Regions from separate parts of the Homo sapiens genome. Here region 2 is linked to region 1. The links come from fine-mapping of genetic effects on gene expression. Tissue or cell type: testis. Region 1 holds a variant in brackets; the other region holds the start of a gene. All regions are shown on one strand. Distances are between the middles of the regions.

Region 1 (8,104 bases):
TGATTACCTCCTATGAAACTCAGGCTAAGCATTTTTAGCAAGAACATGGCATTGTTCATATTCTGCACCGGCAAATTCCCTGTTGTCTACAGGATGGAAGTGAGAGGAGCAGGGCTAAAGCCTCTCAATGCTGTTTGTCCATCTGGCTTTGGTCTTCCTAAGTGTTGATATCAAGTGGAGGCTGAAGGACTGTGGCTTCTCTAACCAAAATTGTGGGTTAACAATTGTCAAGAGCAGTCAGTGGTTCTGAAATACAATCCTCAGCCATGGATCCCTCCTGTGTTGTGTTGAGCTTTCAATTGCTTTGCTCTTTTAGTTTTTTTCATCAAACGAAAATGCTTTTTGTGATATCCTTTCTTTCTTTTCATTGTTCCAGCAGCATTTAGTATCTGTAGGAGACAGAGAAGGAAAGATCAAATGGGCATCTTTGTCAGGTCCTGCTGATGGCTGAGTCTAGAGGGACTGCTAAGTGGTGATAGCCCAGGGGCAAACTGAGCTCCTGCTAGGAGGATGAGCTGAAGGCTGAGCCGAAGGCTGAGTGAAGAGGCAAGTGCCATCCACAAGTGAAAAGTAAATGCCCCTGAACTTCCAGTCAGCTGAGGTGAAGGATATAGGGACCCTAGCTCTGCCCAACCAGCAGCCAGTGACATCAGCCCCTTTCCTCCTGATTCCTTCTGTCTGGAGCAGAGTGATGGCTTTTCACACCCCTCAGTGAGGATGTTCTCAGCATCAACCATGAAAGCTCAGAAACAGAGGGCTGCAGAAGGAAAGGACCTTTTACAGAGAAACCCACTCCCTTACAGCTCCATGTCCCCGTCTCTTAGGGAAGGGTGTGCAGGGCCATGGGAAGAACCCTGGAGGTGAGATACAGGAAGGACCTCAGACCACATCCACATCCAGTTCTGCCTTTTACAACAGAGGAGCAGTGATGCCACAGGGCTGACTTAACTAAAGCCACGTGACTTGCTATTGACAACCCTGAAACTAGAACCCACGCACGAAGTCCCTTTCAATAAGTTGGAGAGAAGAGAGAGTCAATTCTCCAATCTGGAGTTCTTGACAGTCACTAGAGGTTGCTGGGTCACCTTGGCTAGGATAGGAATGAGCTTTTACAAAGAAATATGATGTCACTGCTACTTGTTTTGTCGGTAAAATTAAAAATGAGAAAAGACAAAAGAAATATTATGTGTTCTTCCAAAAAGGATCAGAAAAAAAGGAAAAGGAAAGAGTCAAATGGAATTACAAAGGAAGGGTGGTGATTGTAACCATGGCCCAACTTATTATCCCTAATTCCCTGAAGTTGATTCCATACCTGGTTACACCTTAAGGCATTTCTAGAAATATTCTCAATATCTGATCGACAAAACTCTGAAGTAGAAAGTGAAAAGGATTAGTTTGTGTTTTATTACATTCTCCTCTCCCTGTTATATTTTTCCCAAAGTGGTTTGTTGGGAAAGATTTCTTTTTAGTATTTTATGCCAGCGTCAAGGGTAGCATAAAAAAGTATTCATATATCATCTCTTCCTGAGTTTCAGTTTTATTATTATTATTATTATTATTTCTTTTTTTTTTTAGATAGAGTCTTGCTCTGTCACCCAGGCTGGAGTGTAGTGGTGCGATCTCAGCTCACTGTAACCTCTGTCTTCCAGGCTCAAGCGATTCTCCTGCCTCAGCTTCCCAAGTAGCTGGGATTACAGGCACGTGCCATCACGCCCGGCTAATTTTTGTATTTTTAGTGGAGACAGGGTTTCGCCATGTTGGTCAGACTGGTCTCGAACTCCTGACCTCAGATGATCCACCCTCCTTGGCCTCCCAAAGTGTTGGAATTAAGAGGCATGAGCCACCATGCCCGGCCGAGTTTCAGTTTTTACTTATTATTATATTCTCTCTAGTTGAGTGAGAACTACGAGTTCTCTTTGAGGATTTGGCTGAATGAAAAGAATTGAGCAAAGCAGAATTTTTACACTGCAGTGCTGAACCCATTCATGGGCTCTGGAATCAGTGTGTGGAAATGTAAACTGCAGGATTTATTTTAAAATTGAAAAGAAAGCTGGGCATGACGGCTCATGCCTAAATCCCAGATCTTTGGGAAGCCAAGGTGGATGGATCACTTGAGGCCAGGAGTTTGAAATCAGCCTTCCCAACATGGTGAAACCATGCCTCTACTAAAAAAATACAAAAATTAGCCAAGTGTGGTGGCATGCACCTGTAATCCCAGCTACTCAGGAGGCTGAGGCATGAGAATTGTTGAAGCAGCGAGACGGAGGTTGCAGTGAGCCGAGACTGCGCCACTGCACTCCAGCCTGGGTGACAGAGAGAGACTCTGTCTTAAAAATAAAATAAAATAAAACAAAACATAAAATACAATAAAATAAAATTGAACAGAAAATGCTAAATTTGAATATGTGTAATATACGAGGTATTGTTTTCTGTATACTGGGTTTCAATATAATGACTATTTCTTATTTTACTTGTATTTAAAATTAAGCAAGTGTGCTTTAAGTAGAGAGACTATAGGTCTAATCCACCTATTTTCTTGTTTTTCTTTTTTATTTTTTTCTACATTCTACAAATACTACTGTTGAGAGGTGAATACAGATCCCATCAATGTCTGATGGATGCTCAGCCTTTTGTGTGGAGTAGCCACACAAGTGGTCATCTCCATGTTGAAAACCTGAGGTCAGAGTAGACCAGTGGTCCTTGTCATCTTCGGTTGTATATTAGAATATCATGGAAGTTTTTTAAAGGTACTGATGCTCACATCACACCCCAGACCATTTAAGTGAGAATCTCAAGATGTCAGTTCAAGGCATTCATGTTTATTGAAATCTCACCAGGTGCTTATTACATGGTAGCAGGATTTAGAGACAATGAATGAACCAACCTGATTTCCCATCATTTTCTTTCCTATCCTCATTTCTCTCATGATTGCCTTCATTCTCTGTGGCTCTATGGATTTTAGTCTTTCTTCTGACAATTTCGGTTAAATCTCTCACTTGGGCTGGTCTGAGGCAAAGTCTGTCCTGTAGATAGGTTCTTGTCTATCATCTTATGTAGACATAAAGCTGACCCCTGGACTCACTTTTCTCAAAGTTAATTCATTAAATGCTCTCGTATTTCTCTGTCCTCAAGATTCACCTGAGTTGTGTTTTAGATTCTAACTGAGCTTGTAGAAGTAGATATGTGAATAAAAAGGAGAGAGGTGAGAATGTACCTCGTGGTCTATGCAGGTTCAAAGTCCTGCCCTGCCCTCTGCATCTACCTTCGGCTGAGGTTCCTTTGGAATGTCATAAATGTTCTCCAGTTAATGTCAGCTAAGTGACTCCATGAGGAGCAGGCACAGTCCCTGGAAACTTCATCCACGTTGGCATAAGGTTGCCCATCTGGAGCTGAAGACACACCTGACTCCAGGCTAGTAGGGAACTCTCTTCTGTGACCCAGGTTCTAATTTAGTTTTTGATTTGGGGTTCTTAGTGCTCATTTTTAACACTTCTCATTCCCATGTACAAGGTGAGGGTTAAAGTTTGACTTAGTTGGGTTGCTCAAAAGCTGTCCCAAGAGAAAAATCTGTGTATAAATGACGTATTAAAGCAATGCTCCCAGCAGAAAGGGGCAATGGAGTTTGGGATGCAGGAAGGAAAGGCAAATTACTCAAGCCGTGCAATTCCAGGCAAAGAACTCTGTGTTTAGCAGCTCACACCATGCACTTGGAGGGAGACAAGGAGGCTGGGCTCTCCTGCAGCTGTGAGAAGGACTCTCAGGACAGCAGCAGTGGGAACAGAGCAGAGTTCAGAGAGCAAACAGGTGATGAGGACCAGAAGGGCCTGGCAGGGTGGCAGCCCATGGGACACAGAGGTTAGACCAGACAGACATGACAGCAGCTGCTGGAGAGAACAAATACAGAAGAAAAAAGCAGTGGGAGAAGGAGCTGTCATCACAGACAGAGAGAAATAAGGAGTGAGTGCAGCTAAGAGCCATAGATGTGATTACCTTCGTACTCTAAGCTTGCAGGCCAGGGAATCTGCAGGCCAGTCTCCACTTGCTGAATGGGAGCTTTCTTTTGGTCATC[TTCG/G]GTTTTAGGACACTTGAGGCATGAATGTGGCCAGTGACTTGATGCCCATGTGTGTTGTCAGCTGAGCCTTCAATAGCATCACCTTCCAGCTGGTGAGGGTTCTTCATTCCAAGGGAAGTCTCTAAACCCAGCTCTGAAAATGAAACCACACCCAACAGCATTCACTGTCATCCATGATCTTACTGTGACTTTCTCTTCCACCCAAGAGGATCATCAGAGAAGGAAAGCGGCCTTGAACAAGAAAATCCAAGGGGTAAAGGGAAGCCAAGAAAGACATTTGGGTACTTTCTGTATTGTTGATTTTTCATGCATCACCCAGTAATGACAAGATTGCCAGGAGGAAAAGGTGATCCCAACTGGCAAACATATTCAAAAAATTTAGGATTAATAAACCCAAATAGCTTCCAAGTAGATAAGGCAAAGGCAAGGAAATCACACTGGATACAGGCTGTGTTTTGGGAGGGAGGAGATTCTAAAAATCAAGCAAAATCAACGTTAAATGAACATATGAGAGAAAAGAATTGGGAAGACTAAACATGGGATATTGATGAAATGATCATACAGATAGGTACATTGCATATATCTACATTTTATTAAAAATACATGCAAATATGCATAACGTATATAACAGTGACATAAATGCATATATTTATATATAAAAATCTATTGGAAGAAATTATTACATAGGGATGTGGAAGGTGTTGAATTAACATTATAATCACTAACATTACAATCTAGCCCATTGAAATTGGAAAAAATTTTGGAAAAATAAGACTATTGAGAGAGAGAAGACATGGTGAGAAACAAATGCCCTAGTAGACAGCAGGGAGAAGTCACTAGAGAATGAAACAAAAGGCATTCATTCTTTCCTCCTGCCTGGAGCCTGGTTAGTGCTCTGGACTCCTGGGAAAGCCAGCAGGTGAGAGCGTTGGAGCCAGGTGGGTGAGTCCTGACTGGGGATGTGGGAATCCATGGAGAAGCAAAAGAGACATCAGTGGGAAGAAATCAGTTTAAATACTCGAAGTTATCAGGGCACGTGTCAGGGACTACGCATCCCCCGACACTCACTGAGCGTCTTCCATGTGTCCTCTCCACGGACCCAGAAAGTGCTCGTTACCTCAAGTGACCCTCCTTCCTCCTGAGGACATGGGTCCCTTATTCCTCAGCTGGGGGCATCGCCTGACAGATAAGCACCTGGCAGCCCCAGGGGCTCCAGGAGGAGATATTGAGTGGGACAGAGAGTAAGAATGAACACGACCCAGTAGAGATGGGGTTTCACCATGTTGGCCAGGTTGGTCTTGAACACCTGACCTCAAGTGATCTGCCTGCCTTGGCCTCCCACTGTGCCCAGCTGCAGCTAATTTTTTGTATTTTTAGTAGAGACAGGGTTTCCCTGTGTTGGCCATGATGGTCTTGAACTCCTGGCCTCAAGTGATCTGCTCACCTGGGCCTCCCAGAGTGCTGGGATTACAGGCGTGAGCCACCACACCTGGCCAAGAAACAACCATCTTATTTTGTGCTTTTGTTTGGTCCACCAGATCTATGTTTCTTTTTCTCACCTTTCTTGCCTTTCTTTTGAAATGATTATTTTTTCTTACCATCTATTTTTTTCCTTTTCTGTTGATATGAAAATAATGTACTCTTTTTCTATTCTTTGAGCAGTGGCTCTCTGGCTCTAGAAATCACACAATAGTCACCCTTTCCTTAGCAAAGTCTTTTTTTTCTTTTTAATTTAAAGACAGGGTCTCACTTTGTGGCCCAGACTGGGGTGCAGTGATGCAGTCACAGCTCACTACATCCTCAACTTCCCCAGCTTAAACGATCCTCCTACCTCAGCCTCCCCAGTAGCTGCGACTACAGGCACATACCACCACACCTGGCTAGTTTTGTTTGTTTATTTTTTGTAGCAACGAGGTCTCGCTATATTGCCCAGGCTGGTCTCAGACTTCTAGGCTCAAGCAATCCTCCTGAACCCTGGCCTCCCAAAGTGCTGGGTTTACAGGTGTGAGCTACCATGCCTGGCCTAAAGTCTAATGTTAATCAGTACATTTACTGTCCTTCTGGAATGAGTATAAGGACCTTAGAATAATTTTTTTTTTTTTTTTTTTTTTTTTGTGATGGAGATTTGCTCTTATCCCCCAGGCTGGAGTGCAATGGTGCTATCTCGGCTCATGGCAACCTCCACCTACTAGGTTCAAGCGATTCTCCTGCCTCAGCTTCCCGAGTAGCTGGGATTACAGGTGTGCACCACCACACCCAGCTAATTTTTGTATTTTTAGTAGAGATGGGGGTGAGGTGGGTGGATTACCTGAAGTCAAGAGGTCAGGACCTTAGAATAATTTAACAAAACTTCCCTTTCTCCCTAGTTTCTAGCTGGCAACATGGAGTTGCTATACATTTTAATTCTGTATATTTTAACACTCTGTAAGACATGCATATTACAGCTTTTAAGGTCAATATTTATGTTTACCCATATATTTACCATTTTTAAAATTCTTAATCCTTTCTGTGTCTCTGACCCTTTAGCCTAAGTCAGTTGGTTGTGAATTCTCTCAATTCTTGTTTGTCTGAAAATGCCTGTATTTTACTTTCATGGTTGAAGAATATTTTGCTGGCTATAAAGTTCTATAATAGTTTTTATTTTCTATAAGAACATGGAGAATATATTCCCATTTTTCCTTTGGTTTTTATTTTTGTGCTTTAGAAACTTAAATTAAAATTTTTTTTTCTGGACGCTATAAAGATTTTTTCACTTTTTCTTTTGTTTTCTGCAATATCTCAGGGTGAATCTTGGTGTAGATTTCTTTTTTCTTTATCCTGCATGGAATTCTTAAGTTCTATGAGTCAGTCCTCCAAAATTCTCAGTCATTTAACCATAAAAATTTAAATATTGCCTTTGCTCCATTTCTCTCTCTTGTAAAACTGCAATTAAATATATGTTAGACTTTTTCAAGATGTCCTCCCTCTCTCTTATCCTCTCTGCTATATTTTCTGTTTTTGTCTCTTTGTGCTGTAATATGGAAAGTTTATTCTGACTTATTTTTCTGTTCAATAATTCTTTCTTCAGCTATGTCTAATATGCCCTTAAACTCACTCAATTAATTCATAATTTGTCATTATATTTCCCCTTTTCAAAATTATGTCACTTTTCCCCCTCAGTGTCTTTCTGAAATTTTGAAGCTTTTCTTTTCTTTCTTTCTTTTCCTTTTTTTTTTTCTTTTTTAAGGCTTGGTAGGCATAGTTGTTTTATAGTTGGTATCTAATAATCCCAATATATGACAAACAGTCTTTGTTGGTCTGTTTCTACTATCTTCTTGTTTTAACTGGTTCTTGCTCATGGTACCTTGTTTCCTATGCATTTTGTTTTCTTTGTGTGCTATTCAATGTATTTTAGGAATACTTTGAGACATAAGATGATAGTGCCTCTTACAAGAGAGTATTTTAATTTGTTTCTGCCATGATTCTAGAGATGCTACTAATGCAGGACTATCTTAATCTAAGTTCGAGGCTTCAGGTTCCCTAAAAGAGCCAAATGATGAGAAGCTAGGCTGCAAGTCTTTTGAAGGACTGGTTTAATTCTGGTTTACCCTTACCCTGAAGTGATAACCTTGCTAGGTTCTACCTTACAGTGGCAGGTGGTTTATCTGAGTCTTAAGCTAAGGTGGACCCTGAGCTTTAAGTCTTGTTTCCTCTGCCCTGAAAGACCCCCACCTGCCCTAAGCAAATGCAGTTTCACAGTTATTTCTTCGAGATAAGCAAATCTCATTAGGGCCAAACAGATTTTAATATAGGGGCTTCATTTTTTCTAGCTTTTGACTGGGCAGTTTCTTATTCGATTAACTATTTGGTGCTTTTGGAAGGTGTGGGTTTTCAAAAAATATATTTCCCAATTTCATTTTACTTTTTCTCAGCAGAGGGGTTACTCTGAGATAACTAGTCTACCACTATAGGAAATAATATATATCTATTTTTGTATTTCAGTCTTTAGCACAGTTTTGGTCATTCAATCTTTGTTAAAGAATGATGATATGT
Region 2 (8,104 bases), 45 kb before region 1:
GTCAGGAGATGAATTTGATATGCCATAGATTTAGAAATTAAAACGAAACCCTAAAGTTATTGGAAGAGAATGTAGCAGAATACATTTCTGCCTTAAGAGATAACAGGAAAAAATAAAGCAAAGTAGAATTTCACCAAAGTTATCAACTTCTGCTCATCAAGAATCACCATGAGAAAGTGAGAAGGTGAGCCACAGACTGGGAGAAGATAATTGCACTGTGTTTACCTGAAAAAAAAAGGCTCAAATTTTGAATATAGAGAGTACTTTTTACAAATCAGTAATAAAAAGCAAAGCCAATTGAATTAGGGAAAATGCTTCAAAGCCTGTCTTCTCAAAGAAGGATTGCTAAACGGTGAAAAGGCATTAGAAAATATGCTCAACAGCATTACTCATTAAAGGAAACACAAATTGAAGCCACGATGTGGTACCGTTTTACATCCACCAGAACAGGTGTATTTAAAAAACAGTAAACACCACGCGCTGTCAAGGATGTCCAGCCAGTGGAACTCTCCTTGCTGGTGAGAAAGCATTCTGGAAGAAACCATTTGGCCGTTTCTAATAAAGTTAATATTACACCTACCCTATGATCCAACAATTCCAGTACTTGGTATTCCTCAAGGGAAATGAATGCACGTGTCCACAAAAAGACCTATACAAGAAGAATTTTCGTTCATCTTGTCCAGCAAGTGGCATCGGTTTCCTATCAGCAGGAGTCTGAACACTTCTGGCCCTAGCCTCTTGGTATCAGAGTCGCCAAGGAAATACAAGGCAGTCAGAGACTGGACGGGAGAACAACACATTATTCATACAGAGAGGAGACAGAGCGGGGTGTGGGCTCCGCTTCAGTCTTGGGCGTTGGTCCCCCATGGCCAGCAGGTCCCTCCATTTGGCCTGCACACACAGCCTCTTGAGAAGCAGAAGAAAGGACCCCCGCTTCCTCCCCTCAGTGGGGGGCAGATACAGCAGCTGGCCAGGTGCCAGTTGATGCACATGCTTAAGTGGAACAAAGGGGTACACACCAAGTCTGATCGGGGGAAAGATACTCCCACACAAGGAGGTGAGTCCAGCACAGGCTGTGATGACTCCTTATCTCTCAGGAAGGAAGTGCTCCAGGCCCAAGGCCCATTCCTACGTGGCAGAGTGGAGGTGGAAAGACCCCCGGCACCAGATTGCCTTTCCTCACACTTTGCTGTTGGCATACAAACTTGGTGACGGGCACAGAGACAAGCCATTGTAGGCCACAACAAAGAGTTTGGAGTTTAAAGTCATTAAAAGCTTCTTGTCGTTTCGTGTGTAACAGCCCCAGTGACTGGAAAACAGGTTCTGAGCACACCATTGCCTTCGTGTAAGCCACCACCAACAGGGCTGACTGGGTTATTTGCTCTGTGAGGCTCAGAGACAGGACGGTGCACGTCCAGAGTTTCCCTTGGACTCCTCCCCAGGTTAGTGAGCTGTGAGGTCTCTTTTCCTTACCCCGACGTGCCCCCAGTGACCGGAAGAACGGTTCTGAGCACACCATTGCCTTCGTGTAAGCCACCAACAGGGCCGACTGGGTTATTTGCTGCGTGAGGCTCAGAAACAGGAGGGAGCACGTCCAGGGTTTCCCTTGGATTCCTCGCCAAGTTAGTAAGGTGTGAGGTCTCTTTTCCTTCCCCTGACGCGCCTGGTTGCGGGAGCAAAAGGGAAGAGCTGACAGCCTAGACTAACGACATTGCCGTGACTCGGATTCGAACCGAGGTTGCTGCGGCCACAACGCAGAGTACTAACCACTATACGATCACGGCGAGCCACAGGCTAAACCGCGATGGCGGAGCTTGCTCTAGCCCTTTTGACGTCAATGGATTTCGATTATTAGGCGGATTCGTTCCCAGACAGCCACAGGGGACTCGCGCTTTTCTTTCATGCCCGCTCTGCTTTTCCCTCCCTTCCTCCCAATCTTCATACGTGATGAGAACAATTCTCATCTCCTCCACTCCAGCCTGGGCCTCCCTGCACCAGCCTCTCTCGGGAGGTCTCTCTGTCCTGGTCCGCACCTCCTCTGCTTCTGTGGGGCCTCTCCGTATTTCTGCTTTTCACCCCTCCTCTCTCCCGCCCCACCGACCGAGGCCGAGGTGAGCGAGGGGAGCGCAAGCAGCAGTAGAGAATCGGGTGAAGGCGGAGCCAAGAAGGGGAAGAGCCATCACTAGAGCCCACGGGGCGTTCTGCTTGCTTCCCCTGGGACCCACGCGGCTCAGGCCCAGGGAGTCGCGGACCCGGGCGTTTCCTGGGATGCTGGGTCTGACGCCTGCGAGGGTCAGGACGGGGCGAAGGCCATTCCGCTGCCCTTCCAGCTTCGGAATCACCCAATGCACGGGTTTCAACCGTAGCCAGCAAGATGCGCCTCTCAGGTTTTCCGAGGCTTTAGAGCCTGCACAGTTGTTCTAAAAAAGGCGGTGGCTCCTCCTAACGTTGGATGGGCTCTTGCTCTGCATGGTGATACCAGAGTGAGAGTCGTCTGTCTGTGTGTCTCAGTTGGGTGGTGTGCTTGTTTCCAAGCCCGAAGGTGGGTGGTTCGAGCCTGTTCTATGGAGCATTTCTTGCATTTTAAAAATGCTTAAACCGCTGGCAACTTTCTTCTATCCAGCACATGGTATCATGGAAAGGCAGAGGGAGACTAACTTTACCCTCCTCTCCTCCGTCTGTCGCGCAGGACGTGAGGACGTAAATCAAGGTCCGCTAGGATTCTGGGAACCCTCTCTCTCTCTTTTTTTTTTTTTTTTTTTTGAGATGGAGTCTCGCTCTGTGGCCAGGCTGGAGTGCAGTGGCAAGATATCTCGCCTCACTGCAACCTCCGACTCTCTGGTTCAAGCAATTCTCCTGCCTCAGCCCCCTGAGTAGCTGGGATTATAGGCACGCGCCACCACACCCAGCTAATTTTTGTATTTTTAGTAGAGACGGGGTTTCACCATGTTGGCCAGGGTGGTCTCAATCTCCTGACCTTGTGACCCGCCCGCCTCAGCCTCCCAAAGTGCTGGATTACAGGAGTGAGCCACCGCGCCGCTCTCTCTCTCTCTCTCTCTCTCTCTCTCTCTCTCTCTCTCTCTCTCTCTCTCTCTCTCTCTCTCTCTCTCTCCCTCTCCCTCTCTCTCTCTCTCTCTCTCTTTAACTGTCATTCATTTAGCCCTTTCCATATGCTTTTGAGGTTAAATTGGTTCTGTGATTTTTTTATAATTACATATAATGCTCTAGTCATTCTTGTACGGGCATTTTCAGCCACTGGTCTAAATATTTCTTTAGGCTAGAGGTGCAATTACTATAGGAAGAACAATTACTCTATCATACTGTTCATAAAGTTTTTATATCATTCTATTCTCTCTCTTCTGTTGGCTTATTAGCTATAACTCTTTCTTTTGTTATTTTAGTAATTCCCTTAGGGCTTATAGCAAACCTTTTTAACTTATCACAGTCAACTTTCAAGTGATATTATATCTCACCTTCTGGCCTTGACGCTATAGCTGACATGCACTTTGCTTTTACGCATGTTATAAACACCACAACCCATTGTTATTGCTTTTGTTTAAATGGTCAAATTTTTACAAAAGAAATTTACAAAATAAAAAAATACCTAGTATAGTTACCCATTTCTGGTGTTCTTCATTTCCTCGTGGAGATCTGGATTTTCATCTGGTATTGGATTCCTTCTGCTTGGAGGACTCATTTGATGTTTCTTGTAGTGTGGGTTGACTGGTAGTGAATTCGGTCAGCTTTTGTACATCTCTAAATGTCCTTATTTCACTTCCACTTTTGGGAATTTATTTTTTCTGGCATAGTATTCTACATTAACTTCTCCTGCCCTCAGTACCTTAAAGATGTTGCTTCTCTGTCTGCTCGTGTGCATTGCTGCTCCTGGTAGAGGCCGGCAAGAGCAGAAAGGAAGCTGATGCAATCCTCATTTTTGCTCCTGTGTATGTACAATGTCTTTTTCTTCTGGCCAGATTTGAGCAATGTTATTATGATGTATCTAGGAGTGGTTTTATTCATGTTTCTTGCGCTTTGGTTTCCTCAGCTCCTTGGGTCACTGGATTTATAATTTTTGTTATGATTGGGAACTTTCCAGCTATTTTTCTTCAGAAATTGGCTGGGCACAGTGGCTCACACCTTTGGGAGGCCAAGTCGGGAGGTGTTGAGTGAGGCCTGAAATTCAAGACCAGCCTGGGCAACATACTGAGACCCCATTCCTAAGAAAAATAACAAAGAAAGAAAATAAATGTTTCCTTTCCTCCCTGCTCCTTCTCAGGGACTCCCATTACTCAAAAATTAGACCTCTTAAGTCTGCCCTACAGTTCACTGATAATCTTTTCATTAAAAAAAATCTCTTTTGTCTGTGAGTTTCATTTTGCATATTTTCAATTATTCATGATTCCATGTTCCCTGATCATTTCTTCTGCAACATCTAATCTGCTGTTAATCCCATCCAGCGAATTTATCATCTCTGATATTGTGGTTTTGGTATGATATCGGCTCACTGCAACCTCCGCCTCCCAGGTTCCAGTGATTCTCCTGCTTCAGCCTCCCAAGCAGTTGGGACTACAGGCATGTGCCATGCCGCCCAGCTCATTTTTTGTATTTTGAGTAGAGATGGGGGTTTCACTGTGTTAGCCAGGATCATCTTCATCTCCTGACTTTGTGATCCACTGGACTCAGACTCCCAAAGTGCTGGGATTACAGTGGTAAATCACCGCACCTGGACCCACCATCCCTCCCTCCCTTCCTTCCTTCCTTGAGACAGGGTCTCACCCTGTAGCCCAAGCTGGACTTCAGTGGTGTAATCTTAGCTCACTGCAACCTCTGCCTCCCAGGCTCAAGCAATCCTCCCACTGCAACCTCCTGAGTAGCTGGGACTACAGGCACACCTATAGTCCTGGCTAATTCTTTGAATTTTTTTGGTAGAGATGAGTTTTCCTCATCTTGCCCAGTCTAGTCTGAAACTCCTGAGCTCAAGGGATCAGCCCACCTCGGCCTCCCAAACTGCTGGGATTACAGGCATCTGTTTGTTTACAGTATTGTATTCTCTTGCCAGCAACAAGAGTTACAGTTGCTCTGCATTTTTATAAGCCAGTGGCTTTCCCTGTCTCTTAAATGTTACCCATTCTGATGGGTGTGTTATGGAGTATCATGGCATTTTAAATTTGTGTTTCCTGAATGAGTAATAATGCCAAGAATCCTTTCTTATGCAATTTGGCCATTAAGAAATTCTCTTTGGTAAACAAACACCGTTCAAGTATTTTGCCCATTTTACATTGGCTTGACTCTTTTCTTCCTCCCCAAATTTATACACAAACTTTTCTATTTGAATAGAAAAGTTGAGAAGATAGTACACAGAATGGAGTAAAGAGGATGGAATGGGTTTTTGGAAACCAATTCAAACTTTAAAGTTGTTTTAATATCCTCCATCCTCAAAGAACAATGTATGTCTTCCAAAGACATCCCCTTATTGAAATATGCAGAGAAAGTGTGAGATAAAAGAGCATATACTAAACTCCTCAGAACGTGTTTCTGGAAGTGGACAGGGAAATGGGAGTGGGATAAACAGAGAAAAGAAGGAAAGACAGTAAGTGCCTTGCTCAGAGCTGCCACCATAATGTGCCCTGAGCTAAGGTACATGATTACCTTCTCCCTGTGCACCTGAGATCTAAGAAAATATATTAACTAATCAGGGACATGGAATTTCAAAAACACTACAGAAAAACAGAAAATTTACCCAGACAGACCAGTCTAGTTAAGAAAGGCAGGAAGAGATTTTATAAACAAAGCCAAAACACAGAAATCATACAATGAGGTGGTGGGAATGAGACTAACTGTGCCTGTCATCTCCAATGTAACACTAACTGCTGTGAATTATAATGGATTTAAGTCTCTCAGATTGGATAGAAAAGGAAATGCCAGCTCTAATGGTTTAATGGGCAGAAAAGGGTTAAATATTCAAAGCAGTGCACATTATATTATATATATATATATATATATATATATACGTATATATTGTATAGGAGGGAGATATACATATATATACATTTTTTTTTTTTGAGACGCAGTCTAGCTCTGTTACCAGGCTGGAGTGCAGTGGCATGATTTCAGCTCACTGCAACCTCCACCTCCTTGGTTCAAGTGATTCTTCTGCCTCAGCCTCTCGAGTACCTGGGACTACAGTCACGCGCCACTGTGCTCAGCTAATTTTTGTATTTTTAGTAGAGATGGGGGTTTCACCATATTGGCCAGGCTGATCTCGAACTCTTGACCTCATGATCCACACGCCTCAGCCTCCCAAATTGCTGAGATTACAGGTGTGAACGACGGTGCCAGGTCAAAAGCAGTACACATTATCTTTAGCAAGCTAACGCAGAAACAGGAAACCAAACACCGTGTGTTTTCACTTATAAATGGGAGCTGAATATGAGAATGCATGGATACATGGGGTTGGGGAGCAAGGACAACACACACTGGAGCCTATTGGAGGGTGGGGGTTGGGAGGAGGGAGAGCATCAGGAAGAGTAGCTAATGGATGCTGGGCTTAGTACCTGGGTGATGGGAAGATCGGTGCAGCAAACCACCATGGCACACGTTTACCTATAAGACAAACCTGCACATCCTGCACATGTACCCTGAACTTAAAAGAAAAGTTGGAAATAAAAAATGTAAAAAGGAAAGAAAACAAACAACAACAACAAAAAGAGCAGTGCAAATCTGTACCATGCTCATTATAAACAAAAGAATGAGAGTGAAAACATGAATATCCAACAAAAGCAAACAACAAAAGAACACTTTCTGTTAGCTAGAGGAGTAATATCCTAGCATCTACCTAGAATCAAATGGAACTGTTTTTCCCTGAACTGGCCTCCTTGGGTGGCCAACCAGGGTGAGGTGAAGGGAAGAAATCTGGGAGTGAAATGTCCATTTCTTCGCTCTTGCTTAGGTCTCTGTAAGGCATAAGAAGTTAAAAGCAAGATCCAATCCCAGGCCTTTTCCAGGAATTCAAAAGAGGTGTAGGAGGAGAGAAGTTCAATTATCACCCTGGTCTCCTGGAGTATCCCAGGCATAGTCCCAAGAGTTCAGCTTTCCAAACCAGGGTCCCTGTTCTCTGACAGCCTTTTTTGGAGAAAGTACTGATGTTCCTGTCAAGGTTGGGAGGAAAGGGTTTGAGAGGCACCAAGCAATGGGGAGGCAAAGAGAAGACATCAACAAGCGAGGCAAGAACTTTCCACAGGCTCACACTGGATACAGGACCAGAGACAAGAAACTGGGTGAATTTCTGATTTTTCCTACAGAGGTTTGTTATCAAGTTGCACAGAGCCTACTCAGAATAAGGCTTTTTCAAGTCAGCTCTTTTAATGTGAAGCCATAACTTTGTGGTGTTGCCTGATGCAAATCACCACTGCGAGCCTTTGCTCTGGGTGTCTTTTTTGTTAGTCACATCAAAGAGAACACAGCGAAAATCTTGACTCCTTTCCCCAAGTCTGTGTCTTAACTGTTTCCAAGGCTGCAGAGCTCAGGGTCAGGAGGCACTGGCAGTTCAGTGGTAGAAATTACACCTCCCACCCGGGAGACCTGGATTCCATTTCTGGCAAATGCAGGGTCCTGTCTTTGTGCCCTGTGGTTTTTACATTTACTTACTGTAATTGTGACCCTCAAAGAGGTCACAGCCACACTAATAAAGAAAAAAAAATGGAAGCTACTGTATAGTCCTCGGGTTCTTTCCCTAGCTGAATTTATCTTTCTTTTATTTATTTATTTTTGTTAGTTTGTTTGTTTGAGACAGAGTCTCGGTCTGTCACCCAGGCTGGAGTGCAATATGTGCAATCCTGGCTCACTGCAACTTCCACCTTCTGGGCTCAAGCGATTCTCCTGCCTCAGCCTCCCAAGTAGCTCTAATTACAGGTTTGTGCCACCATTTCCTGCTAATTTTCCTATTTTCAGTAGAGACGGGGTTTCACCATGTTGGCTAGGCTGATCTTGAACTCCTGACCTCACATAATCCACCAGCCTCTTACAGGGTGTACCCGGCCCTGGAGCGGAATTTATCTAAGCAGGGACTTTATAGAGACAGTCTATGAAGCAGCCAGTGGGTCTG

Alleles and levels. Alleles are on the strand shown, and positions count from the first base shown. SD is a standard deviation of normalised expression in the study named.
For the expression in testis of the gene that starts at base 3,881 in region 2, allele TTCG in region 1 goes with a higher level than allele G (small effect, 0.31 SD a copy in GTEx).

Evidence for each region. PIP is the estimated chance that this variant, and not a neighbour inherited with it, causes the effect.
Region 2: it holds the start of LINC02806, and the variant in region 1 is fine-mapped to the expression of LINC02806 in testis (GTEx, PIP 0.91).

The regions. Positions count from the first base shown.
Region 1 is chr1:148,230,382-148,238,485 of GRCh38, reverse strand. All of the region lies in intron 1 of LOC101927468 (a long non-coding RNA gene), which reads left to right. Among named protein-coding and RNA genes, the nearest start is that of TRQ-CTG4-1, 31 kb to the left of the region's middle. RefSeq lists an enhancer at 34-535. The variant TTCG/G (reference allele first, on the strand shown) is at 4,070.
Region 2 is chr1:148,275,045-148,283,148 of GRCh38, reverse strand. LINC02806 (long intergenic non-protein coding RNA 2806) reads right to left here and starts at 3,881. Exons shown (of 2, transcript NR_187239.1): 1 at 3,618-3,881. LINC01731 (long intergenic non-protein coding RNA 1731) reads left to right here and starts at 1,926. Exons shown (of 5, transcript NR_183739.1): 1 at 1,926-2,111; 2 at 7,775-7,911. TRH-GTG1-3 (tRNA-His (anticodon GTG) 1-3) reads right to left here and starts at 1,784; the gene lies at 1,713-1,784.